Linked DNA regions of Homo sapiens. The protein of the gene in region 5 purifies or fractionates together with the protein of the main gene of each other region. This does not show direct contact. Each region holds a gene or a part of one and is shown on either strand. Other genes may lie near its edges.

The links.
Region 1: the proteins of PSG11 (region 5) and ABCF3 purify together in Homo sapiens (affinity purification with mass spectrometry; one large-scale study listed by BioGRID and IntAct). This does not show direct contact.
Region 2: the proteins of PSG11 (region 5) and APAF1 purify together in Homo sapiens (affinity purification with mass spectrometry; one large-scale study listed by BioGRID and IntAct). This does not show direct contact.
Region 3: the proteins of PSG11 (region 5) and ARHGEF1 purify together in Homo sapiens (affinity purification with mass spectrometry; one large-scale study listed by BioGRID and IntAct). This does not show direct contact.
Region 4: the proteins of PSG11 (region 5) and NEIL2 purify together in Homo sapiens (affinity purification with mass spectrometry; one large-scale study listed by BioGRID and IntAct). This does not show direct contact.
Region 6: the proteins of PSG11 (region 5) and DSC2 purify together in Homo sapiens (affinity purification with mass spectrometry; one large-scale study listed by BioGRID and IntAct). This does not show direct contact.
Region 7: the proteins of PSG11 (region 5) and RGL3 purify together in Homo sapiens (affinity purification with mass spectrometry; one large-scale study listed by BioGRID and IntAct). This does not show direct contact.

The regions. Positions count from the first base shown.
Region 1 is NC_000003.12:184,185,073-184,188,998, reverse strand, and holds the start of ABCF3 (ATP-binding cassette sub-family F member 3), read right to left. Parts: upstream 2,801-3,926; 5' UTR 2,792-2,800; coding exon 2,719-2,791; intron 2,493-2,718; coding exon 2,345-2,492; intron 2,205-2,344; exon of another isoform or gene 2,204-2,204; coding exon 2,124-2,203; intron 1,636-2,123; exon of another isoform or gene 1,603-1,635; coding exon 1,556-1,602; intron 1,336-1,555; coding exon 1,238-1,335; intron 1,139-1,237; coding exon 1,016-1,138; intron 859-1,015; coding exon 592-858; intron 336-591; coding exon of another isoform or gene 329-335; intron 239-328; coding exon 158-238; intron 71-157; coding exon 11-70; intron 1-10.
Region 2 is NC_000012.12:98,732,290-98,735,933, reverse strand, and holds the end of APAF1 (apoptotic protease-activating factor 1), read right to left. Parts: intron 3,515-3,644; coding exon 3,368-3,514; 3' UTR 501-3,367; downstream 1-500. UniProt on the Homo sapiens protein: Oligomeric Apaf-1 mediates the cytochrome c-dependent autocatalytic activation of pro-caspase-9 (Apaf-3), leading to the activation of caspase-3 and apoptosis. This activation requires ATP. Isoform 6 is less effective in inducing apoptosis.
Region 3 is NC_000019.10:41,903,684-41,907,183, reverse strand, and holds part of ARHGEF1 (rho guanine nucleotide exchange factor 1), read right to left. Parts: exon of another isoform or gene 3,478-3,500; coding exon 3,400-3,477; exon of another isoform or gene 3,398-3,399; intron 3,150-3,397; coding exon 3,074-3,149; intron 2,969-3,073; coding exon 2,801-2,968; intron 2,236-2,800; coding exon 2,148-2,235; intron 2,010-2,147; coding exon 1,923-2,009; intron 1,425-1,922; coding exon 1,357-1,424; intron 1,246-1,356; coding exon 1,159-1,245; intron 728-1,158; coding exon 564-727; intron 482-563; coding exon 398-481; coding exon of another isoform or gene 381-397; exon of another isoform or gene 376-380; intron 80-375; coding exon of another isoform or gene 1-79. UniProt on the Homo sapiens protein: Seems to play a role in the regulation of RhoA GTPase by guanine nucleotide-binding alpha-12 (GNA12) and alpha-13 (GNA13) subunits. Acts as a GTPase-activating protein (GAP) for GNA12 and GNA13, and as guanine nucleotide exchange factor (GEF) for RhoA GTPase.
Region 4 is NC_000008.11:11,776,210-11,779,709, forward strand, and holds part of NEIL2 (endonuclease 8-like 2), read left to right. Parts: intron 1-3,388; coding exon 3,389-3,500. UniProt on the Homo sapiens protein: Involved in base excision repair of DNA damaged by oxidation or by mutagenic agents. Has DNA glycosylase activity towards 5-hydroxyuracil and other oxidized derivatives of cytosine with a preference for mismatched double-stranded DNA (DNA bubbles).
Region 5 is NC_000019.10:43,016,470-43,019,969, forward strand, and holds part of PSG11 (pregnancy-specific beta-1-glycoprotein 11 isoform 1 precursor), read right to left. Parts: intron 2,580-3,500; coding exon 2,301-2,579; intron 1-2,300.
Region 6 is NC_000018.10:31,061,381-31,064,421, forward strand, and holds part of DSC2 (desmocollin-2 isoform Dsc2a preproprotein), read right to left. Parts: 3' UTR 1-3,041. UniProt on the Homo sapiens protein: A component of desmosome cell-cell junctions which are required for positive regulation of cellular adhesion.
Region 7 is NC_000019.10:11,395,315-11,398,814, forward strand, and holds part of RGL3 (ral guanine nucleotide dissociation stimulator-like 3), read right to left. Parts: intron 2,284-3,500; coding exon 2,131-2,283; intron 2,045-2,130; coding exon 1,930-2,044; intron 1-1,929.

The DNA.
Region 1 (3,926 bases), on a different chromosome or scaffold from region 5:
GGTCACTCACCGGGTGGGCTGCTGCTGCATTTTAGGGGTAAAGCCAAGCCCAGCGAGAATGACTGATGCCCTAGTAGAGAAGAAATCGAAGAACTCAGTTGGAACAGTCCACAGAAGGGAAAGGAAATCTGAAGGAGGGAGGGGGAGCTTTAAATACCTGGCAGGTGCCTTGTCAGCCTCAATCTCCTCCAGTTTGGCATAGATTTCTGCCAGCTCTGCAGCTTCAGAGCCCTCCGCCCTGGAGGGAGGAGAAACAGCAATTGGCCTAAGCAGGGGCAGTCTAGGAGGATGTCCTGCACCCTATACCGTTGGAAAGGCCATTGGCTACCTTGTGGCTGGAAGAGGAAGAGAATACAGGAAGGGTTTGCACAGTGCTCATTACCTTGGGCACTATGGAAATGGGCACTGTGGAAAGAACAAGAAAGGGCAATGGGCACTGTGGAAAGAACAAGGGCTTCTGAGTCCCAGAGTGCCAAGTTCTAAGCTCTGCTGATTACTAGGATGTACATGCAAATTATGGATTGTTCCAGGACGGCAGGCGCTCTGTAAGCGACAGCGGCTGCTAGTTACTCCCTAGCCGGGAGTCCTCACCTGCCAGCAGCAATCTGGGCAGTGAGCTCCCGCTCCCTCCGTAGCAAATCCTCTCGCACACTGTCACTCTCCAGCACACTCTGCAGGGCAGGAGTGTCATCTCCAGCAACCTCTTGCTCAACGTGCAGCAGGGAAATGTGGGCTGGAACCCGCAGACTCCGGGTGGCCAGCATCTTCAGTAACGTTGTCTTCCCCAACCCATTCCGCCCCACCAGCCCGTAACGGCGGCCCCATGCCAGGTTCACATCCGCTCCAGCCAGCAGTACTCTGCAGGAGTGGAGAAAGGAGACCAAAGATGCTCTAGAAATAGGTGCACAGCAAGTTTAATGACAAACCTAACATTGTTTATAGCCCCGTTTCACCTCTCCAAATTGTCCTCTAATTAGAAAAAGAAAGCCAACCCCTGCCACCACTATTCCCTCACCTATCGCCAAAAGACACATCAAAGTTCTCAATTCGCACATCATAGGATTTGTTCTTGCCAGATGATTCCAACCGACTCTCCTTTCTGCTGCCTGCCTGGCTGGCTGATGCCTCTTCTAAGACTCTTTAAAGGGAGAAATGGACAGCTCTTAGTGCTCCCCACCACCTTCTGTCCAGGCAAAAGCTGCTCTGCTCTCTTCTGAGCCATGCTTCCCCCACTCACAGAGGGTTGCTGGTCTTGAGCGTGTCCTTCTCTGAGCGCTTCTCCTGCTTTGCCTTAAGTCGAGCCTCGGCCTTCTCTAACTTCTTTGCATTCACTGTCTAAGGGTCCAAACACATCGACTTCACTCTCGGGTGTAGGCTCAGAAAGGAACCCCAAGAGAGAACATCTCGAGTAAACCCTCTTAACTTACCCATGATGAACAGACTCAAAGGCTCAGGAAAAGACATAGTCAGAAATCCCCCCAAAAGATACTCCAATTAGACAGTCAACTCCCAACCCCATCACAGACAGTCCCCTCCCTTGCTTCCTCCTCCTCACCGAGGACTGTTCCCTCTTTAGCAGTCCTGGAAGTTTGGTTCCACAGTCTGTAAGCGATAAGAAAAGCAGTCACCTTCTCCCTGAGGGAAGGGAAACTAACATTTTGAGTGACTAATAGGAACCAGGCACAGACACAGATGTTTTCTACAAAACCTTATAATACTGCAGATAGATGGCTATTATCTTCCCTGCACTAAAAACAAAACAAAACAAAACAAAACAAAACTCACGTAGAAGGATACAGAGGCATAGACAAGGCTGGGGACAGATAACCAACTCTTACAAGATCATGCAGCTGGTTAGCAAGTTGCAAAACTGGGGGTGAAAGCAAGTCTGTCCAGCTCCAGGCTCTTATGCTTCCTATCCTACCCAAGAGCTTGGAGGGAGAACCCTCCAACCTCCTCCCCACCCCCATCATGGGCTCTTCTGCCCTCGGTAAAGACATCAACTAGCTCCTACAACCTTGTCCTGTGGAAAAGACGTAGGAGCCCTAAGCTGCAGGCAGCAGATGGTTGGGGGCGGAGAAAAGCACAGGGGGGCAGTTAGTTCAACCTCCCCTCACTCTCACCGTAGTTCTCCGTTATCTTTGACAACTGGATAGGGGCGTCCAGTAGCACCTGGCTATTTCCCTGGCTTTGTGGCTCAGCCCTATGTGGGTAGGGATAGAAAGCGCAGAGTTAGGAGTTGAGGGAAAAGCTCTATGGCCATCAGATCTTCCTCCCCCACCTCTTGTCTCCGGACCGTTCGCCGTCCCTTCGCCCCCATCAACCCCTACTCCCTGGCACATACAGACGCAGAGTGTTGTACATGCGCTGGCACACGGCCCTGATGCCCGCGTCATCCTTGCTGTCCCCGGACACCTCTTGCAATAGTTCCCCTACAGCTTCCACCAGGTCATCCACAGACTCGAAGTCCGCGCTGCCGCTGTGCAAGACGCCTGGGCAGGGCGTGGTAGAACGAGGAAGGTATCGGGTAGGGTGGACACACAAGCAGTTTCAGACCCCAGACAGAGGCCCCAGTCCAGGCTCCAGACCCAACCAGCCCCCGGGACAAGAGGTCATGCAGAGGAGAGGCCTGGCAACAGTCCCGGGCACGACGCTCGCTTAGACTTTCCCCCGGCCTCCACTTCGGTCTCCCCAGCCGGCCGATTCAGTTCTGCTTACCGGTCACGTAGTCGAAGACTTGTCCGTCAATTTCGGGGAACTCGCTCCGCAGGATTTCGGCGCAAGTCGCCATGTTCCACTCAGGAACCCGTCCGCGCAGTCGCTGTGAGACCCCGGCCTAGGCCCGCCCCCCGCCCTGCCCCCGAAATCTCGCCCTTCCTTGCAAGGCGCATGTGTAGCGGTGACGCAGGAAAGGAGCGGAGTGCGCAGAGCCCGGTGGGCGGGGCGAGCGGGGCCTTGAGGAGAGGCGCCGAGTCTGCGCCGGAGCCGCGCTCTCTGCGCGTGCGCGACACCTTTTCCGCTGAAAGATTAGCCACATGTGCGGTTCTCGCTGCCTTCTGGGAGGTGGAGTTCCGGGAGCGAGGGGTGGGGCAAAGGCTGGGAGCTCAAGGTTTATCGGGGCCGCGAGGCACCCGTGGTCTGGCGGGTGGGAGCCTCCCAAGAGGCAGGCGGCTGATAAAGCACTTTGGCTTTGCCAGGTTTTATGCGCTCCCTCGAGGCGCGTCTGCTGCTGGTGCGTACCCAGTCAGGCCCATTTTGGAGCCTGCCCAGAGCTTTGCTGACTCACCCCGGTCCCTGACTCTCAGAAGCCCCCTGCTCAGTGCTTTGCTTTCGCGGGTCCCCAGACCCTACGGGCTTCTCAGCCTGGTGGCCAGCGCCACCCGCCTCCCCGCCGCGACCGCCTTTTCACTGTGTAATTCAGCCGACCTTTGTGAATTAAGCCCATTCAGTTCTTCCACCACCCCAGGGCACGACCAAATCCACCGCCAAAGGGCAAGAAAACCAGGACAACGTGGCCTGTATAAATTATTCCCTACCTACACCCTGAGCAGACTTCTCTGCACTCAATAAATGCCAATAAAAGGCTATTTCCTTTCACCGATTCCCTCGGGAAGTTAGGAATTTCCTCCAAAATGATGCTACTGCTTTATATTTAACGTGAATATTCCTCCAATTGGTCTCTAAAAGTGGCACCGAAAATTACATTATTACCCATTCATCCCTTTGGATTAAACATTGCCATCATGAGGCATCAATCCCGATATTGAACCATTTTACAGGAAATACAGGTAAAGAGGAATATGTTAAGTGACTTCATGGGGACAACAGGCAAATTCTGATGTGGTAAACTACAGAACTCTGGTTTCTTCCACAAAATTGCAAGACCTGAAGGGAAACATCAATTTTTAAAATTTGAGGAGCATTAA
Region 2 (3,644 bases), on a different chromosome or scaffold from region 5:
TCACTTCCTCACATCTTTCAGGTCTGTACAAGTGTCAGCTTCTGAAAGAGCCAGTCCATCTAAAACCGTAACCCCTTCCCCTCCGCTTGTACATACCACCAAATTCACTATAGATTTTACTTATTTACTTTTTCTGCCTCTCCCTGGCCCTTAACTGCAGTAGAGCAAGACTTTTGTTTTGCTCACTCCTGTGTTCCCAATACCTACCACAATGCCAGGCACATGGTACATCTCAATATTTATTAAACAAATGCATGAACAAACTAAGTGAATAAATAAATGAATTCTCTTTTTTACAGGATCTTCTTCATGCCAGCCATACCGGGCAGGAACCATCAGAGAGACACACTGAGGAGGCACTCAGAAAATTTTGATAGAATTGAATTTACATATAGCTGATAAAGCCTAAATAGAAAGGTTGATGTATTTAGCTTGAATCCTTCACTTTAGTGGTCTAATCAACAGATAAATGACAAGCAAAGAATGAAACAATCCAAAAATGTTTTTCAAAACAATTTTGTGAATTTTATTTTTACAAAAATTTTTTAAATTCATATTTTAAAATGTATACCAAGGCAAAAAAATCATATAAGCTATATCATAAATACAAGAGTTTCAAAACATACAAGAGACATATAATGTAAAAAAAAATTATATATATGAAGTCCAATGTAATTTATAATACAAAAAAATACAGCAAGGGAAAATGCTTTAGAAATGCTCATCTGCAAACTACAAAACAAAATCCTCCTCTTGACCGACTGCATGAACTGCCATGAAATTTGCAGCTCCATCATACTAGGTATCTCTTCTTTCTTCATGTTACCTTGTCTTTCTTCCCATTTTTCTTTTAAGACAGGGTCTTGCTATGTCACCCAGGCTGGACTCAAACTCCAGGGCTCAAGGAATCCTCCTGTCTTAGCCTCCCAAGGAGCTGGGATTACAGGCACGTGCCACCGCACCTGGCTCCTAATTTCTTTTTAAGACAAGGGCCATTCAAGGCTTTTTAAAACCTGATGTGTGTTGTTATACTTTATAACAGTCAGTGGCTTTTAATTCCAAAAGGTAATACTTTATACTCTGCCTACATGAGATGAGCCCCTAACAGTGTGTACAAATAAAATTATGATTTGGGTATTCTAAGGAGACATACCATTTACAGAAATTTCTTTTGATAAAATTAAGGTTTCACTTTTCACATTTGCTTAAATCACAGTAAGCCTGTAAACTAGCTCCTTGACCCACCATTTAAAAACAAAAAACCTCCTTAACAATGCAAAGGATTGTATTCACTGTATTTATGATTCCATCAAAGGCTAAATAGCTTATCTAAAATACATCTGAGTGATCTATTCCCTTACCCTCTCCCCGACCTACCCCACAGTTATACTAATATGCACCAACAATAAAAACAAGTTATCTACTATTAACACTAGTAATCATTTGATTTAGTTCCAGTTACAGAAACAAAAAAAATCTTTGAATTTTGATTATATTTTCTGGGAACCACATCTACTATTAATTTATCTCCATTGCCCTTAATAATATATTTCAGAGAAAATGTTTCTTTAGATTTACGCTTCAACTAAAGTTCCTGATCAGGAGGTCAAAAATAGCTAGTTATTGAGTTTTTTCCCCTGTCAAAAGCTATTTTTCCTGATTAACCTTGGAGATAAAAGAAGAGAAAGGAAAGAAGGAAGGAAAAGAGGATGAGAGAGACAAGGGAAAGGAAAATAGGTTGGCTGGAAGGTTAATCTTCTAGAGTTACAGTGACTCATCTGGAATTACACAGAAAACCAGAGAATTCTCTTGAAATTCATTAAAAGAATGGCATTCACAATGCCATTCATCTAAAAGTAAATGGAATTAGATGAAAATTGTTCTATTTCACATTTCTTAGAAAAATCTTATTAAGGCTTATGATTAAAATTGGCCCCACCTCAATGACTAACATTTAGCAGTGGAGAAACTGCTTTTTAAAAAAGAAAAAAGTGAGGATTAGGAAAGATCAGGTTTCATTCAAGTAAGAAGTCTGATATGTAAGAAACAAGAGGGAGCAGGAATAGTGTCCAACTCAGATACTGACAACTAGAGTCCAGATATGGCACAGGGCTGCCAGCAGCTACAGTGAGAAAAGGGTAGACCAATAAAATCTACTCTTTCCAACATACAAGTTTTACTTCACAAAAAGAACTGCTGAAGGCCAGGCCAGTGGCTCATATCTGCAATCCCAACACTTTGGGAGGCTGAGGCAGGAGGATTACTTGAGGCCAAGAGTTCAAGACCAGCCTAGACAACATAGTGAGACCCTGTCTCTACAAGAAAACTTAAAAATTAGCTGGGTGTGGTGGCTCGTGCCTGTAGTCTCAGCTACTTGGGAGGCTGAGGCAGGAGGATTGCTTGAACCCAGGAGTCTGAGGCTGCAATGAGGTATGATTATGCCACTGCACTCCAGCCTGGGTGATAGTGCAAGACCCTGTCTCCATTAAAAGAGAAGGGGCCTGGCCAGGCACGGTGGCTCACGCCTGTAATCTCAGCACTTTGGGAGGCCAAGGCGGGTAGATCATGAGGTCAAGAGATCGAGACCATCCCGGCCAACATGGTGAAACCCCGTCTCTACTAAAAATACAAAAATTAGCCTGGCATGTGCGCACACCTGTAGTCCCAGCTACTCGGGAGGCTGAGGCAGGAGAATTGCTTGAACCCAGGAGGCAGCGATTGTGGTGAGCCGAGATCGCGCCACTGCACTCCAGCCTGGCAACAAAGCAAGACTCTGTCTCCAAAAACAAAAAAAAAAGGTGGGGGGGCCTGCTAAATCCAAGACTCACTTATTGAGTCAATTAAAGGAAATGCTGCAGACTATGCACACAGACACAATATTTTTAAAGCAAATTTAAAGAGTGCAAAAAACCTCTAAGATTGTATTTAGGAGAACAAAACCCCCTTGGGGTAAGTGTGGTTCAAAAAGCAGGCCACTGCTACCCTGAGGCACAGCCTGCATAACAGTAATAAATACAGACAGTATTAAAATACCAATTTCTTCCAAATTCTTCTCATTAATTATGTCAACCATTTTGAATGCATCAAGACAGAATTTTACCAACAGTACAACAAGGTATGTATTCACATTTTCATTTGCATCCTAAGGACAAACTGTTAATGATGATCATGAAAAACAAGATTAAAGGTATGTTCATTTGGGAAAAAGCTACATTAATATTATTCATCCAACCACAAACACTTTTGTAATGAATGCAATACTGCACAACAATTAAGAGCTTTATAAAAAGTTGATATCAGGGTTTCATTAGAATTTTTTTCCAATTCAAAAATTTAAAAAGTTCAACTACATTAATGCTTAACTATTTTATTCTAAAGTCTGTAAAATATATAAAATACCAAGATTATCCACAGTCACATATGTTTTGAAGTCAGGGGACACGTGTATTTTCTTAAGATTGGTTCCATTTGTGTAGAAGGTCTGTGAGGATTCCCCAGTGACAACGTTCCACCACTGTTCAGAGAAAAATAAAATTCTCATTAGATTGGTAATTACACTGTGTGACAATTTATAGTGCCAGCAGATCCTTTACCCTATCTCCTCCCCCCAACCGAACTCAAGCAAACAGGAGGAAAATGTCTCG
Region 3 (3,500 bases), 1.1 Mb from region 5:
GTGAGATGCTGCGGCAGCTGTGTGGGTGGGGGTGGTCCCTCACGTCCTCTCCCCCATTCCTCTCCTTCTTGCAAAAGGCCTGGGGGATGTAGGAGAAGAGGGGAGACGGGGAGAGATGGAGAGAGAGACAGGGAGAGACAGACACAGAGACAAGACAGGGAGAGCAGAGAGAGAAGGGGAGGTGGGGAGAGGCAGGCGGGCACAGAGACAGAGAAACAGATTATCAGAAACAGAGACACAGAGATGAGAAACACGAGGTGGAGTGGGGAGATTCAGAAAAGACAAAGAGGGAGATGGACAGAAGGGGCTGTAGGGATGCGAGCTCTGGAGGGGGACCCTCCTTTCAGGACAGCGCCCTGGCCCCCAGGTGCCCCACTCACCTTCCTGGGCGGGAACCTCAAGTGCAGCCAGGCTGGGGGACAGAGTTCCCCCCAAGCTGAGACAGGAGGGGTCTCAGGCGGCAAAATTCCTCCTCCAACTCCTGGTGGGGTGGGGGTCATGGATGAGGGGGGCCCCTTCCTTCCCCAGCCCACTCAGGGCACCCCTGGCCCGTCCCGCCCCACCTCCAGCTGCTTCATGGTCTCCTCCAAGCTGAGCAGGTTCTCCTGGATTTCCTGGGTCCGTGCTGGGCTCAGGGGGCCGCCCCCTGGGACCCCATCCCCATCTCGAGGAGGCCCCGCCCCATTGTCTTCCTCCGCCGGAAACAGAAGCTGCTTCAGGGACAGCACTGGCCAGGGGCAAGGAGGGGTGGAGTCAGGAGACCAGGGGGCTGGGCTGGGATCTGGGATGGGGGATTCCAAAGGGGATGTGTAGGGGCTGGAGGTGAAGGTGGGTGCCAGGCAAGGCTGAGCAGATGGGGTTCGGGGATCCAAAGGGAGGTGAAGAAGTGAGGCTGGGTTTAGGGTTGGGACAGGGCAGGAAGGTACTGAAGACAGAGATGTGTTCAGGAAGAGGCTAAATATAGAATCAAGCAAGGGATGGTGGCTGCAGAAGAGGGACGTGGGCACCCAGGACAGTGGTGCAGGCTGGGTGGGTTTGGAGCATTTGTTTTCTGGCAGCTGGGCGTAAGGAAATTTTTGACGTGGAGAGCCTTGTTCTAGTTGGAACAGAGGCACTGTTTGGGCTGGTGGCCACCCTGGAGGGGCAGAGCTGGGCTACCTTTCCGAAGGGCCGTGGCAGCGAGCTGGCCCTCGGGGCCTGGTCTGCAGAAGGGCAGGAGGTCACTGAGGATTCTCTCGGTCCGGGCTGGATTGGGGAACAGAGAGGGAGCTCAGATCCTGCCGGGCCTCCTGTGGATGCCTCTCTTCACCCGGCAGCCCCAACCTGGCCCCTCACCCAGCATCCCTCTGGTCTCACCATCAGCTGGAGACGTCTCTCGGCCACCATTGCCGTTCTCAGAGCTGCTGAGGAGGGGTTCTCGGGTGCTGAGGGGAGGAAGTGCTGGGTGACCCCACACCCCTGGCCCTGGGGGGCCGCAGGGGCAGGGAGACAGAGAGCTGGAGGTGGGGAGGCAGGGAGGTCCGGAGACAGAGACAGAGGTCGAGGCCGGGAGACAGGGAGACAGAGAGGCCCAGACAATGGAAGACACAGAGGCCTGGAGACAGGAGACAGACGGGGCAGTGGTGGGGTCGGCACATGCGCACACACACACACATGCATGCACATGCTGTCACACGCATGCACACATATGCATACACACACACCATACACGCACACACATGCACACGCACACATGCATGCATACACACACTATATATGCACGCACAGTCACATACTTGCGTACAGACACACATGTATGCACACACATGCATTCACACATGTGCATGCTCACACAGAGACGGTTCTGGAGTTGTGGAGGGAAGCCTGCCCCGCCTTCCGGCCCCACTCCCTGAACCTCCAGCTCTCTCCATGGCCCCCCTCACCTGCTCGGGCTGGGCCGGGGCTTAGGGCGAGAGGCAGGGGCAGGGACTTTCAGGGATCCGGCAGTCTCAGTGATGAGAGCACACCAGCTGGGGAGAAAGGCCAAATCCCTGGGCAGTCAGAGCCCCCAGACCCTATGCCAGGGCCTCCCCACAGCCCTCCTGTCCCTGGGAACCCAGAAACCTGGGCGTCCTCCACCCACACTCAGAACTCAGACCCCCCCTCACTTTTTCCGCTCCGACACAGTCTGTGCCACCAGCTCGTATATCTGGGCCTCCTGGTCCCAGGTAAAAAGGACGTAGAAGGCTTTGTGATCTGCAGGGAGAGGGGGAGATGGGGCTCAGAGCCCAGGTCCCCCCAGTGCCTGCCCCTCCCTAAGCACAAGCTGGAGAAGTCACCCACAGTGGTGGCGCTCTCAGGGCTCCCATGGCTCAACTCACCACTCACTGTCTGCTAATATCCAGGGCCCGATGTGTCCTCCTGAGCCCCACCTCTCACACCTCCTTATGGAATCGGGCATGTACCCTGGCTTACCTAACGAAACCCCTCCAGCCACTCCCACCCTCCAGCCGCTTCCAGTGTTTGTGGCCCTGGTGCAACTTCCTAGTAGTATGTTTACAAATCCCTCCTCACTGGACTCCTGGCCTTTCTTCTCCTTGTTTACACAAGACACGCCTCTGTGCAAACACCTGCAGCAGTTCCTACCTCACTTATAAACCCTCTAGGCCTGGCCCCGCCCTGCCCACCTCCACCTACTTCTCAACCTCTTTGCTAGAATGCTGGCTCCCTGGCTCTCTAGAGGGTTCTGCTCCCCACTCCACAGGCAGCTCTGCCCAAAAAAGACACCCTCTGCCCTGGGCCATGCAGTGGCTGCACTCACCGGTGGCCACCTCGCGGGTCATGGCGGAGGTGAGCCGCAGCACGGGCCGCAGCATGGTCTTGCCATCGGGCGTGGGCGTCAGTGTCCGGCTATGGGACTTGAGCAGCAGCCGCTCGTCCTGGCGCTGGAGCAGCAGCAGCAGGTCGTCCAGCAGCAGCACATGCACCTCTACGGGGCGAGCAGTGCTCACACGGCGTGCCCCCGCGCGACCCCCTCCCCGCCCTTGGCTCACTGCCCCAACACCCTGCACTAGGCAGCTGCTCTGGCACTCACCCACTGCCTTGTCCTTAGTCACCCGCCACGTCAGTGGGCCCTCGTGGACCAATTTCTTCTTGGTGATGTCCAGGTTCTGGGGCAGGAGGGGGTGATGGTTTGTGCAGGTTGGCAGGGGGTGATTGGGGTTGGTGGGGAGGGGAAGGGCAGGGCAGTGGCCGGGGATGACCACAGGCTGGGGATCATGGGATTGGCATGAGGTGGGGGACAGAGCTCTCGCTTCCTGGGTGTATTATGGGATGGGCAGGACAGGCTGGGGGCTGTATCACAGAATCCCCTGGGCCAAGGAGTAGGGGGGCGGGGGAGGCAGGAGGGTATGGTCACACCTTGAACTCGCTCAGCATAGGGTCGCTGCTCTGCCGAAGGTGGGACAAGTCCAGGCGCCGCTGATAGTCCTTGAGCCTCTGGGGCAGAGACGGGAGCATTA
Region 4 (3,500 bases), on a different chromosome or scaffold from region 5:
GGCAAGAAAGAGCATGTGCAGGGGAACTGCCCTTTATAAAACCATCAGATCTTGTGAGACTTACTGTTGTGGGAACAGCATGGGAAAAAACCCATCCCCATGATTCAGTTATCTCCCACCGGGTCCCCCCCACAACACGTGGGAATTATGGGAGCTAAAATTCAAGATGAGATTTGGGTGGAGACACAGCCAAACCATATCACACATTTTATGGTCAGTGATGTCCAGTCATCAGTTGTTGGACACTCGGATTGTTTCAACTCTTTGACTTCTATGGATAATGCTGCTGTGGGCATTCATATGCAAGTATTGGTGTAGACGTATGTTTCCATTTCTCTTGAGAGTATTCCTAGGAGTGGAATTGCTGGACCATATAGTATGTTGAACTTTTTTAGTGTCTTCTGTAGTGTTTTCCAAGGCAGCTGCACCATTTTATCATCCCACCAGCAGTGTATGAGGACCAATCCTTCCATTTTTAACCTCTTGCCACAGCACCTGGGGCCTCCCCATCTCCAGGTCACCTGGGGTCACGATGGGTAGGTCCCCTGGGTTCTCTCTTCCTTGGGGCTCCCCTCTGCTGCAGCAGGGGTCTCTGCTCTCCCTCATCAGTTACCCTTCCTGTGCCTGTTCCTCATCTTCTGGGGGGACTTTGTATCTCCTGTCTGCTCCTCCTCTTGGTCCTGAGAGTTGAGAGCTCTTTGGTTCCTATAGCGGGTTTGTTGGGAGTAGTGCTAACAGCGCACGCCCTGGCTGCTGTGTCTGACCAGGAGCCCCTGTTCCAGTGTAGGGTTTCCACCTCTGCCTTCAGGTATGTCCCCTCAGCTGGGCACACCCTGTCTCCTCTGCCCTCCACTCTTCTTGTGAAGCCCAGCCCAGGTAACGGCCAGCTTCCCCTCATCATGTAGACTCTTCTTCCGTGTGCTACGTCTGCTTCTACCCACACTTTTCTTTTCTTTTTTTTTTGTACAGATGGGCGTTTCACTTTGTTACCCAGGCTGGTCTCGATCTCCTGGGCTCAAGCAATCCTCTCGTCTCAGCCTCCCAAAGTGCAGGGATTACAGGCATGAGCCACTGTGCCTGGCCTAGCCACACTTTTCTCTGTGCTCTTGTAGTATCTGTTTTCACAGTTGTCCCCCTCCCACCCCCACCGCCTTTTAAAAATTTTTAAAATTGTGATGAAAAACACATAACAAACTTTACTGTCTTAACCATTTTAAAGTATATAGTTCAGTCATGTTAAGTGTATTCACGTTGTCTAACAGTTTCCCTGAACTTTTTTATCTCCCCAAGCTGAGACTCCATACCTGTTGAACGCTAACTCCCCCTTTCCTCCCTCCCTGCAGCCCCTGGCAATCACCTTTCTACTTTCTGTCTCGATGAATTTTACTTCCCCAGATACCTCATATCAGTGGAATTATACAGTATTTGGAGTTTTTTTGACTGGCTTATTTCACTTAGTATAAAGTCCTCAAAGTTCACCCATGTTATAGATAAGGGAAGATTGGAGATTGTTGTAATCTAATTTTGCTGCTATTACAGAATATTTGAGACTGCATAATTTATAAGCAATGTAAGTCTATTTAGCTCACAGTTCTGGAGCCTGGAAAGTCCAAGGGCATGGCATTGGCATCTTGCCGTGTCATTTGCAATTGGCATTATTCCATTCAGGAGGCCAGAGCTCTATGGCCTAATCTCAAAGTTGCCATCTCTTACCACTGTTCCATTGGGGATTAAGTTTCCAACACATACTTTTTGAGGAACACATTGAAAGCATTGCAGAGCCTTATTCATCTGTTTGCCCTTGGAGCCTAGCACACTGCCAGGCACATTGAATAAGCTTAATTAATGATTAGTGAATTGAAGTGGCTGCAGTGTCACAGGAACCCAAAAGAGGGACAGCAGAAATTGCCATAGTTGGTATGAGGACATCCTGACCTAGACATTTTTGACCTAGTAAATGTTTTGTTCATGATGGGCATTTGACAGTTATTTTCATCAGAATTATATCAACATTGGTGAGTTTATACCAAGAAATATTTTCTGCAGCAAATTCTATTATGCCCACTTAAATCCTTGCTCAGTTTTTTTTTTTTTTTTTTTTATGTAGGTCAGTTAAACCATTTCTAATATGTGGCAGATAACAATCTGTGCTCAGATTTACAGATAAGCTATTCTGGGATTATTTCGAAAGGTAATGCTCTTTTGGGTGGAGGACTTCAAGATTAATTTGTGTACTAATTAACAAGTTAAAGATCATACCAGAACAGTGATCTTTAAGCACGGACCTGTAGTGGTCAAGAAAGTAACACAGGCATTTCCAGTATTAATGCCAGATATTTTGGTTTATACTCCTTGAAAGACTGCCTGAATTTCAGGCTGTGTAGAACTGACTCATCCTGGAATCTAGGCCTACATATTGCATATCAGGAGGTGCAATATGAAAATAAAGTCAAAGCAAGGGCCCAGGCATGGTGGCTCATGCCTGGAATCCCAACACTTTGGGAGGCCAAGACGGGCAGATCGCTTGAGGTCAGGAGTTCGAGACCAGCCTTGCTAACGTGGTGAGACGTGGTCTCTGCTAAATATACAAAAATTAGCTGGGGGTGGTGGTGTGCACCTACAGTCCCAGCTACTTGGGAAGCTGAGGCAAGAGAATCACTTGAACCCAGGAGATGGAGGCTGCAGTGAGCCAAGATGGTGCCACTACACTCCAGTCTAGGCGAGACTCCATCTGAAAAAAAAAAAAAAAAAAAAAAGACAGCAGAACATCCTTTAACACACATTTTCTATATTTATTTTCTTCTACTGAAATCATTTTCAGTGAGATGAGGTGGGTCCTTTGCCTTATACTTTTTAGAGTGGTGATCTGATTCACTGATCAATTTTTGTTTCAGTATCTAATTTTTATTGATTACAGTTTCCTTATCAAGTCCAATATGCTGGTGGAGGGGGTAGCGAGGGGTACCCAGTTTCACAGGGTGTTGTCTTTAGCTGCTCTGTATGTGTGCATTCCCACGCACCGCTTATTTCTGGCATAGAAAATGTATTACGAATGGAATGAAGGAATGACAACTTATGTTCATTTCTTAGCTACTGCATGAAAAAATTGGGAGCGATTCCCTTCAGGTATTCCAGGGTGGCCTTGCCATCTTGCATGGGTGTGTTTCACTGCCAACTAAGTCTCCTTGCTCCCAGTCACTTTGAAAACCACATGCGAACTGCTCACACCACTGGAGCAAAAGAGCAAAAGGCAGAGTCCAAAGACTTCATTTGGGAAGGCCCCCCAGGAGGGGTGAGAAGGAAGACCTTTGCAATAGGATAAATATCCGCATTCCCCAGTTCCCCTCTCTGGGTCTGTAAGGCTTGGATCTCTGTTCATTTTTTCTAGGTCCATGGAAAGAAATTATTCCTTAGATTTGATCTAGATGAAGAAATGGGGCCCCCTGGCAGCAGCCCAACACCAGAGCCTCCACAAAAAGAAGTGCAGAAGGAAGGGGCTG
Region 5 (3,500 bases):
GGACATTCTAGAGATCAGTAATAATGGGACTTCCCATTGTCCTGAAACCCTGAAGATACTGAGCAGCCTGGCCTGGGACTGGATGTTTCAGCAGAAATAACACAGGGGAGACCAGAGTCAAGCCTGGAGGTCAGTTCAGTCATCAGGCAGTGGAGGCAGAAAGTGGGGCAGTGTTTTGCAGGTGTTTCATGATGACTTACTTGAACCAGTGACCTCTAAAGATAGAGCAGAGCGCAAGGAATGATCTAGGAAGAGTGAAGGGGATAGGCAAGAGCTGGTGGCTTTGGAGCAGAACCATGTTCCCTGTCCTGGGTCCTTTAAGTTTCCTTTCCTTCTGCAGAGGGCAGGTGAGGACCATGTGGATCTTTCCAGAAATACATGTGGACATTTGCAAATGCAGAACTGACTGGTGGAAAGGGTGGGAATGAACTGCTGGAAATCTGGTCCTCATGGACCATATGTGTTTGATGGATATGAGACAAATTTGGAGAAAAGTTTTGCAAGTAGTTTCTTTCATTGGATATTCTACTCTCTGATCCCCTGGGTTCGACTACTCTAGGGACCTCATGTAAATGGATTCCAGAGTGAATATGAGAAGAGACTGCTGGTTGCCAGGAGCTGGGAGTGGGGAGAATCAGAAGTTGTTCATGGGTGTGCAGTTTCCGTTATACAAGTTGGGGAGTTTCTAGAGATCTGCTGTAGAGCTTGATGCGTATTGTTCACACAGATTATTTCTTATGCATAAGACTTAGGACAAAAAGTGTTTTGGATTTCTGACATTTTTTGATTCTGAAATATTTGTCATATACTTACTGGTTTAGCATCCCAAATCTGAAAGATTCAAAATCTAAAATGCTTCAGTGAGAATTTCTTTTCAGCATCAGATTAGTAGACAAAAGTGGGAAGTGATAAGCCAAATATATTCTTGCCCTTTTTTTTCTCTCACCACATTTCTAGCTTGGTGATTAGTTTTCGGTGAATTCCATACTGGCCATGCTGCACTCATATATATTTGAAGGCTTTGGGATGTGAGAAAGGCTGATTGCTATTTTCTATGTCATCAAAACTTTCCACCTTTTCATGGTTGCATCTTTTTCACAGTGTTTCTGTTGTGGCAGTCATTAATAAGTGCCTGTCAGGTCAGATTTAGGACAGAGTTTTCTAATTCTGCAAAAAATGTTACTGGGATTCTAGTAGGGGTTGCATTGAATCTGCAACTCACTTTGGGTAGTATTGTCTTTCTAACAATATTGATTCTTCCAGTCCATGAAAATGAAGTGTCTTTCCATATAATGATATTGTCTTTAATTTCTTTCAGCAATGTTTTGTAGTTTTCAAGGTATAATCATTTGACCTTTTTGGTTAAACTTATTCCAAAATATTTTATTCCTTTTCATGTTAATGTGAATTGAAATTCTTTCCTTAATTTCCTTTCAGATTGTTCATTGTTAGTGTATAGTCTAAAGAATGATCTAGAAAGAGTGAAGGGGACAGGCAAATGCTGGTGGTTTTGGAGCAGAAACATATTCCCTGTCCTGGGTTTTTGATTTTCCCTCTCCCTTTGCAGAGGGCAGGTGGCTCTTCCCTGATAGCTAGATAGACTTCCCTGGAAAACATAGTGCCAATGCTCCAGGGATCCACTTACCAGGGACTATGATCCTCTTGATTATGAGATTTGTTCCACCAGTGGCTGAGTTATGGATGAAACAGACATAGACCCCTCTATATGTTTTAGTGATTTGGGGTATGAAGAACACTTGTGCTGATTGCTGGAACTTCCCACCAATCAGCCAAGAATGCTCTGCCAGTGGGTGAGTGTCTATGAGACAGGAGAGCTTGGGGACTTCCCCTGTATGGTAATAGGTGTATGAGGAAGAAATGGTGAGGGCATCCAGGCCATCTGGAGCAAAGAGAATAAAGTCACAGGTGACATTGTCAGAGGGAAGGGAAAATCCTGGTCTGTGGAAGGGCCACAGTGACCCTGTGAGCCAAGTCGCAAGACTGAAGTCCCAGCCAAATCCTCGCTGTGTTCACTGATCTGGAGCCTGAGACATTCACCTGTTTCTCCCATCACAATCTGTGGACCCTGAGCCTCCCATGACAGGAGCAGCCTCTTTTCTCCCACTGTGGATCAAGCCTAGGCCTACTGTGGTTTGTCTGGGGCAGAAAGTCATGGCCAGCTTTGATGTCCAGTGGTAAAGGTCTCTGTACTTGGACCTGAGAGGGACTGAGAGGCCTGGCCTCTGGCCATGTGTATTTGGGATGGCAGCCTGGCTCACAGAGGAACAGAAGATACTCACGGAGGAGATTCAGGGTGACTGGGTCACTGCGGCTGGCACTCCCTGAGTTCCATATTTCACATTCATAGGGTCCTGCAGTATACTTTGTGACACCAAATAGAAAGAGGGTCCTGTTGGTTTCAGACAGCTGCATCCTATGAGTCATAGGGAGGCTCTGACCATTCATCCACCACAGGTAGCTTGCGTCCGGAGTCTCAGGATTACAGGTTAAGATCACAGTCTCCATGGCCTCCCTGGGGTTTAAGTTGCTGCTGGAGATGGAGGGCTTGGGAGTCTCCACTGTGCAGAAAACAGAGAGAAGATTGCCCTGTGTGGCACCTTTGATTCCTCCAAAGGCATTTTTCAATCAGAATTGGCATTTGCCACCTCTCAGCCCACCCGAGTCCCTAAAAGCCCATGGCAGGTGTGTGTGTTACAACACAGATGCATGGCATTCTGAAGGCTAAGAGATTGTGAGGCTGCCTGCTTTATGTGGGAGAAGCACAGACTTTCTCAGGTGTGAATTGAGCAGCAGCATTGGGTCATGGAAAGACACAGGACCAGCAGTCATAGCCCCTGGTGCCTCTCTGAGTCCCTCCATCTCCAACTGCCTGCCTGGCCCACCTTTTGGTCCTGACTTGGAGCATGCAGTGCTGGAATCTTCTTAGTTTCAGTCTTACTTTTCCCCCCAAGGTATGTTTTCTCTGCAGCTTCCCTTGCCAAGGACATCCTAGAGATGGATGATGGAACTTCCCATTGTCCTTAAACCCTTTGGGTACTGGAAAGCCTGGCCTGGGACTGGGTACTTCAGCAGAAATAACACAGGGGAGACCAGAGTCAAGCCTGGAGGTCAGTTCAGTCATCAGGCAGTGCAGCCACAAGGTGGGGCAGTTTTCCCAGGTGTCTCATAGTGACTGACTTGAGCCAGTGACCTCTAAAGATAGAGCAGAGTCCAAGGAATGACCTACAAAGAGTGAAGGGGACAGGCAAGAGCTGATAGCTTTGAACCAAGACCATGTTCCCTGTTGTGGGTCTATGATGCTCCCTTCCCCCAGTAGAGGGCAGGTGAGGACCATGTGGATCTTTCTGGAAATACATGTGGATGTTTGCAAATGCAGAACTGACTGGTGGAAAGGGCAAACATGAACTGATGATGGAAGTCTGGCCCTCATGGACCATATGTGTTTGGTAGATATTAGACCAATATTTGGGAAGAAGTCT
Region 6 (3,041 bases), on a different chromosome or scaffold from region 5:
AGAGAGAATGAAACAAAACAGCCCTTGCCATTTCCCATGCACCAACTATCACTCCATACGGAGGCACATCAGTGAGTATCTCTTCTTTAATCTCACGTATACCTAGAATTTAGGATATACCAAATGGCTTGAGAAGAATATGCTCCAAATCCATGACACAGTAAAATTCCTCTATAAAACAAGATTTAGGGTGTGTTCTTTTAAATTAAAGTGCTCTGTTTACCTGACTAGCTATTTCAAAGCTCTAGCTTCTTTTTGTTGCCTGTTTTTTAGCATTATGCTCTTTTGTTTTACCTTAAGACTCTATATTGCATGTCTTATTTGAAATATCTAAAGTTTAAAATGCAGCCTCATAATGTATCTATTTGCTTAATTTAAAACATTTAAGCAAAAGTAATAGGTTCTGCTTCTTAGCTATTGATGGGATAAAGAACACAAGGACAGGTGGGGAGAGAAGAGCTTCTTGGAAGAAAGATCAGATCCTACTTCTCAAGATTTCAGTCCTCAAACCTAGAAAACCAGAACTGGTGAAGAGGAAATAATAAAGGGGGTCATACAACTGATCCCCTCTCCCCAGAAAGCAAAACACATAGGTCTGTCCTACATGTCCTACGTGAGAAGAGCAGGGCTGGGAACTACCTCTTACGTGTTATCTTCCAAGTGACATTATCAGTTCACAGCACAATATAGGCATTGCCTCTGAGGCTCATTGCTATGCATTTCTTTCCCTATTCTCTACTTCTTGTGTGAAGATTTTCTTCTCTCAGGGCACACATGAGCACGGTGGTTTCCTGTTACAGAATGTTCTCCCAGCCTAACATGGAAAAAGCTCGTAGATGTATGCCACTTTCTTTGCTTTGTGGTTTCTCAAGATATTTTTTGAAGCAAGGCCTGACTTACAACATTTTATAAATAACTAATGGGAATTTTGGCAAACTCATAAGAATCATTTCTTGAATTTCTAAACATAAGTGGTTTTTAGTTGCTTTTCCTCAGGTGGTTAGAGAGTGGCCTTTTGGTTAAAAAAAAAAAATTCACTGCAGTGTTTGAACCTGGCAATGATGAAGTGACAGTCGCAAACATAATTTTCACATTGGCTAAAAATTTTCAAGTTGAGAAAAAGAATTCTTTAGGCAATATGCAGTCTGATCTTAGCCAGGTACCTAACACACATGTGCATTTATTCATTCATCCATTTATTCATCACACACCAAATATATTCAGTGTCTACTGCTCTACATGTTAGGCATACAGTGGTCAAGAAGACAGAGGAGAACCCTTGGGGGTTACATTTCAATATGGGGCAATTATTGGTGGCTACAAGTAGGTTCGTGCAATTATTGGTGGTAGGATTTGAGCTGGCCTGAACCACAATATTCAGACACTACCCCTTCTGTCTGCCCCTCTCACTATCCCAAGGGAGAAGGGATTCCAAAATCTCAACACTTCACTTTCCTGTATTAAGCTGTGAATGCAAACAATTGTTCTAGTCATTCAATGTCTTCTGAGGAAAAACAATTCAGTGCAGAATCTAACATACACCATGTCTATCATGTAAAATTTATGCCACAGAAAATTAGTATGTGCTGAGAATAAAAAACCTAACTTTTATTATTTCTCTTTTTTCCTTTATGACCTGGGCAATATAATTTGATGAATCAAAATTTGGCCAGGCACAGTGGCTTATGCCTGTAATCCCAGCACTTTGGGAGGCCAAGTGCTGACAGATCACTTGAGGTCAGGAGTTCAAGACCAGCCTGGCCAACATGGTGAAACCCTTTCTCTGCTAAAAATACAAAAATTAACCAGGCGTGGTGGTAGGTGCCTGTAATCCCAGCTACTCAGGAGGCTGAGGCAGAAGAATTGCTTGAACCTGGGAGGCAGAGGTTGCAGTGAGCCATGATCATGCCACTGCACTCCAGCCTAGGTGACAGAGTGAGATTCCGTCTCAAAAAAAAAAAAAAAAAAATTAATGGCCAGAGTTGTATAGGCATGCAATTGTGAACACCTTTCTTGGTCCTTAGTGTCCTACATGAAAGAAAAGAAACACACACACAAACCTGTAGATGAAAACTTTACAGCCATGTGCTCTAGACACACAAATGTCTAGGCGGTAGTATTTTTACTAGATCCTCAAAAAGTAATATTTTTACAAAGAAAGAGACAATGAGTAAAGACATTGTAAAAAGAGAACTAATCATGAGCAAGGCACAAATTGAAAAATGAAGGATACAAGGAGATTGGGGAAATTAGTACAGAAGGTCCTCAACTTAAGATGGCTCGATCTGATATTTCAACTTTATGATGGTGTCAAAGAAATATGCATTCAGCATTCTCCTACACTTATGAGACTACATCCCAATAAGCTTATTTTAAGTTGAACATATGGTAAATGGAAAATGCTGTTTTGATTTGTAATATTTTCAATTTACCATGGGTTTATCAGGATGTAACCCCATCATAAGTCAAGAAGCATCTGTATTTAAAAGTGATTTTGTGTTTAGAATTTATCCTCTAAAACCCTATAGAAAGCTCTTAGGCAGAATGGCATGATCATATCTGCTCTTTGATGGCCCTTGAAAAAAGAGAAGAGGGAAGAAATTGGAAGCATAAACACCATTGGAGCTGAGTGATGCTGAAGATTTAATCTGGGGTACTGGCGGGGGGGAATATTGATCAGGAATGAAGTGAAGAGTGGGAACAGCTGACATAGGGTACACCTCAACCTCATGAATGCTTGGATTGGGAGTAGCAGAAGCAGAAGTTCACTCACTAGTGTCCTGAAGTTCTTTCACATCATCTGAAGCTTTTTAAAAACATGCATTATGCACTTACTATGTGCCAGGCATTGTGTGATGTGTTTTACAGGCATTAGCCCACTCCTTACATCCACCGTGTCTTGACTTGCATTCAAGTGTGTGGGTGGGGAGAGTGGCTGATTCATCTTGCACTTTCTCATAGAAGCACAGTCCTTCTAGTCTCTGTTTTAAAAGGCTACATATGACTGCACTGGGAAGGCATCAAATGACTACAGTACAAAC
Region 7 (3,500 bases), about 32 Mb from region 5:
CCACAAGCATCCTTTCCTAATATCCAGCCAACCTCATGCCATGTACTTCAGCGTGAATACGCTCAATCCCTTGCTTCTCCCTGTCAGACAGGACAATCTCATGCTTCCGCGGCTATCCATTTGCCTCTCTCCCGTCCCAAGTTCAGATAACTTCAGGGTCCCAGTGGTGAACAAACTTAGTTCTCACAAATCTAAGCCCAGATGCCCTTTAGTCTCCCATCCCATCAGGTTGAGCCTGAACAATCTCATGATGCTACAAACTTAAGATCAGACAAACTTCTACACTCCCTTCTCTCACTCGACCCTAGACAATCTATTTTTTCTTTTTTTTTGAGACGGAGTCTCACTCTGTCGCCAGGCTGGAGTGCAGTGGCGCAATCTTGGCTCACTGCAACCTTCACCTCCTGGGTTCAAGTGATTCTTCTGCCTCAGCCTCCTGAGTAGCTGGGACTATAGGCGCCTGCCACCATGCCTGGCTAATTTTTTGTATTTTTAGTAGAGACGAGGCTTCACCATGTTGGCCAGGATGGTCTCGATCTCTTGACTTCGTGATCCACCCGCCTCGGCCTCCCAAAGTGCTGGGATTACAGGCGTGAGCCACCATGCCCGGCCCCCTTTTTTTTTTTTAATTGAGACAGGGTCTTGCTCTGTCACCCAGGCTGGAGTGCAGTGGCGTGATCTCAGCTCGCTGCAGCCTCCACCTCCTAGGCTCAAGTGATCCTCCCACCTCAGCCTCCCCAGTAGTTGGAGTTGGGAATACAGGCACATGCCACCATGCTCAGCTAATCTCTCTCTCTCTCTCTCTCTCTCTCTCTCTCTCTCTATATATATATATATATATATATTTTTTTTTTTTTTTTTTTTTTTTTTTTGAGACAGAGTCTTGCTCAGTCGCCAGGCTGGAGTGCAGTGGTGCGATCTCGGCTCACTGCAACCTCCGCCTCCTGGGTTCAAGCGATTCTTCTGCCTCAGCCTCCCGAGTAGCTGAGACTACAGGCATGTGCCACCATGCCCAGCTAATTTTTTTGTATTTTTAGTAGAGACGGGGCTTCACCATGTTGGCCAGGCTGGTCTCGAACTCCTGACCTCAAGTGATCCACCCGCTTTGGCCTCCCAAAGTGCCGGGATTACAGGCGTTGAGCCACCGCACCCAGCCAATTTCTCTATTTTTTGTATAGATGGGGTCTCCTCATGTTGCCCAGGCTGGTCTCAAACTCCTGAGCTCAGACAATCCACCCACCTTGACCTCCCAAAGTGCTGGGATTACAGTTGTGAGCCACCATGCCCAGCCCATCCTACAAATTGAAGGTCAGAAACACTCCCTTCTGTCACTTGTCCGTGGACAGTCTTTTTTTTTTTTTTTTTTTTTAAACAGAGTCTCGCTCTGCTGCCCAGGCTGAAGTGCAGTGGTATGATCTCGGCTCACTGCAACCTCCGCCTCCCAGATTCAAGCAATTATTCTCCTGCCTCAGCCTCCTGAGTAGCTGGGACTACAGGAGTGTGCCACCACACCCGACTAATTTTTGTATGTTTCGTAGAGACGGGGTTTCACCACGTTGGTCAGCCTGGTCTCAAACTCCTGACCTCAAGTGATCCGCCCAGCTTGACCTCCCAAAGTGCTGGGATTACAGACATGAGCCACTGCGCCTGGCCGGACCCTGGACAATCTTATTGTCTTTTAAATTTTAGGAAGATGACCTTTGGTACCTCTCTCTCACACTGAGCCAAGACAATCTCATGACCCTACATCGTTGGGTTACAGGTATTTTATGTCCTCTTACCTCCACTGATTATCTTACCCCTACTCTCTGCCTGAAGCACCTCACAGCCCTGTGAACCCGGGTAACCTTGGGCTCCATCCTTGGGCGTGGTCAGTCTGCTCGCCTCCCCGCTGCCCCCTATCCTGAGCTCCAACCCATCCCTGCTCACCCCGGTCCCCAGGAAGGACTTGAAAGAGCTGATAGTCACAGGCCCAGGGCTGGGGCACATTGTGCTTCTGCAAGGCTCGCCGGACCACGCTGGGGGCTTTGTCCTGACTGGTCAGCTGGAAGAGAGGGGCGGGAGGTGAGGTGAGGGCCCCGGCCCCAAGGGCAGGGCAGCCTCCAGCAGACCCCCAGCCCAGCCCCTCACCAAGATGCTTCGATACAGGTTCCCGTGGTCATTGTCGATGCTGACGCGGATGACACGGGCCTCCGAGCTCTGCTGCGCCGGGAGGGGGATTCGAGGGCTGCCCAGAGGCAAAGCGAAGGGCCGGGGGCTGGGCAGGTCCAGGCTCAGGGGCAGCTGCAGGCAGTAAGGGGTGGAGGCTACAGCTTGGCCCATCTGCAGATGCTGAGGGCTAGAAAAGCACGAACACCCCAGCCACCACTGGTGCATTCAATAGCCCCACATTTAAAATCTCAAGAAAACATTGGCTGGGCGCAGTGGCTCATGCCTGTAATCTCAGCATTTTGGGAGGCCGAGGTGGGCGGATCACTTGAGGTCGGGAGTTCAAGACCAGCCTGGCCAACGTGGTGAAACTCCGTCTCTACTAAAAATACAAAAATTAGCAGGGCCTGGTGGCGCATGCCTGTAATCCCAGCTACTTGGGAGGCCGAGGCAGGAGAATCACTTGAACTTGAGAGGCAGAGGTTGCAGTGAGCCAAGATCACGCTACTGCACTCCAGCCTGCGTGACAGAGCAAGACTCCATCTCAAAAATAAATAAATAAATAATAAAATAAAATAAAATCTCAAGAAAACATACTACTACCCCCTACACATGCAGAGCCTGGGACATGCAACTGGAGTACATTCACAAGCCTGCATATACACCACCCTACCATATACAGACTTTGGTTACCTGTTATAGAAACAGACATGAACAGTGTCCATATACACACAACCCATGCTCATACACAAGAAATCCTGTGTACATACATATGCTGACAGCGGTTATACACCCACAGCCCATGCCAATGAACAACCCCACACATGATCTCATGAATACTCAGGCCCACATTTCCTCTTCTGGTACACAGATTCTTTTCTTTTTCTTTTCTTTTTTTTTTGAGACAGAGTCTTGCTCTGTCACCCAGGCTGGAATGCAGTGGTGCCATCTCAGCTCACTGCAACCTCTGCCTCCCAGGTTCAAGCAATTCTCATGCCTCACCCTCCCAAGTAGCTGGGATTACAGGCCTGTGCCACTATGCCCAGCTAATGTTTTTATTTTTAGTAGAGACGGGGTTTCACCATGTTGGCTAGGCTGGTCTCAAATTCCTGGCCTCAAGTGATCCACTGGCCTCGGCCTCCCAAAGTGCTGGGATTACAGGCATGAGCTACCATGCCCAGCCTTCATTTCCTTCATTTCCTTTTCTTTTTTTGTTTTTCTTTTAGAGGGAGCCTCGCTCTGTCACCAGGCTGGATGGAGTGCAGTGGCACCATCTCAGCTCACTGCAACCTCCGTCTCCTGGGTTCAAGTGATTCTCCTGCCTCAGCCTCCCAAGTAGCTGGGACTACAGG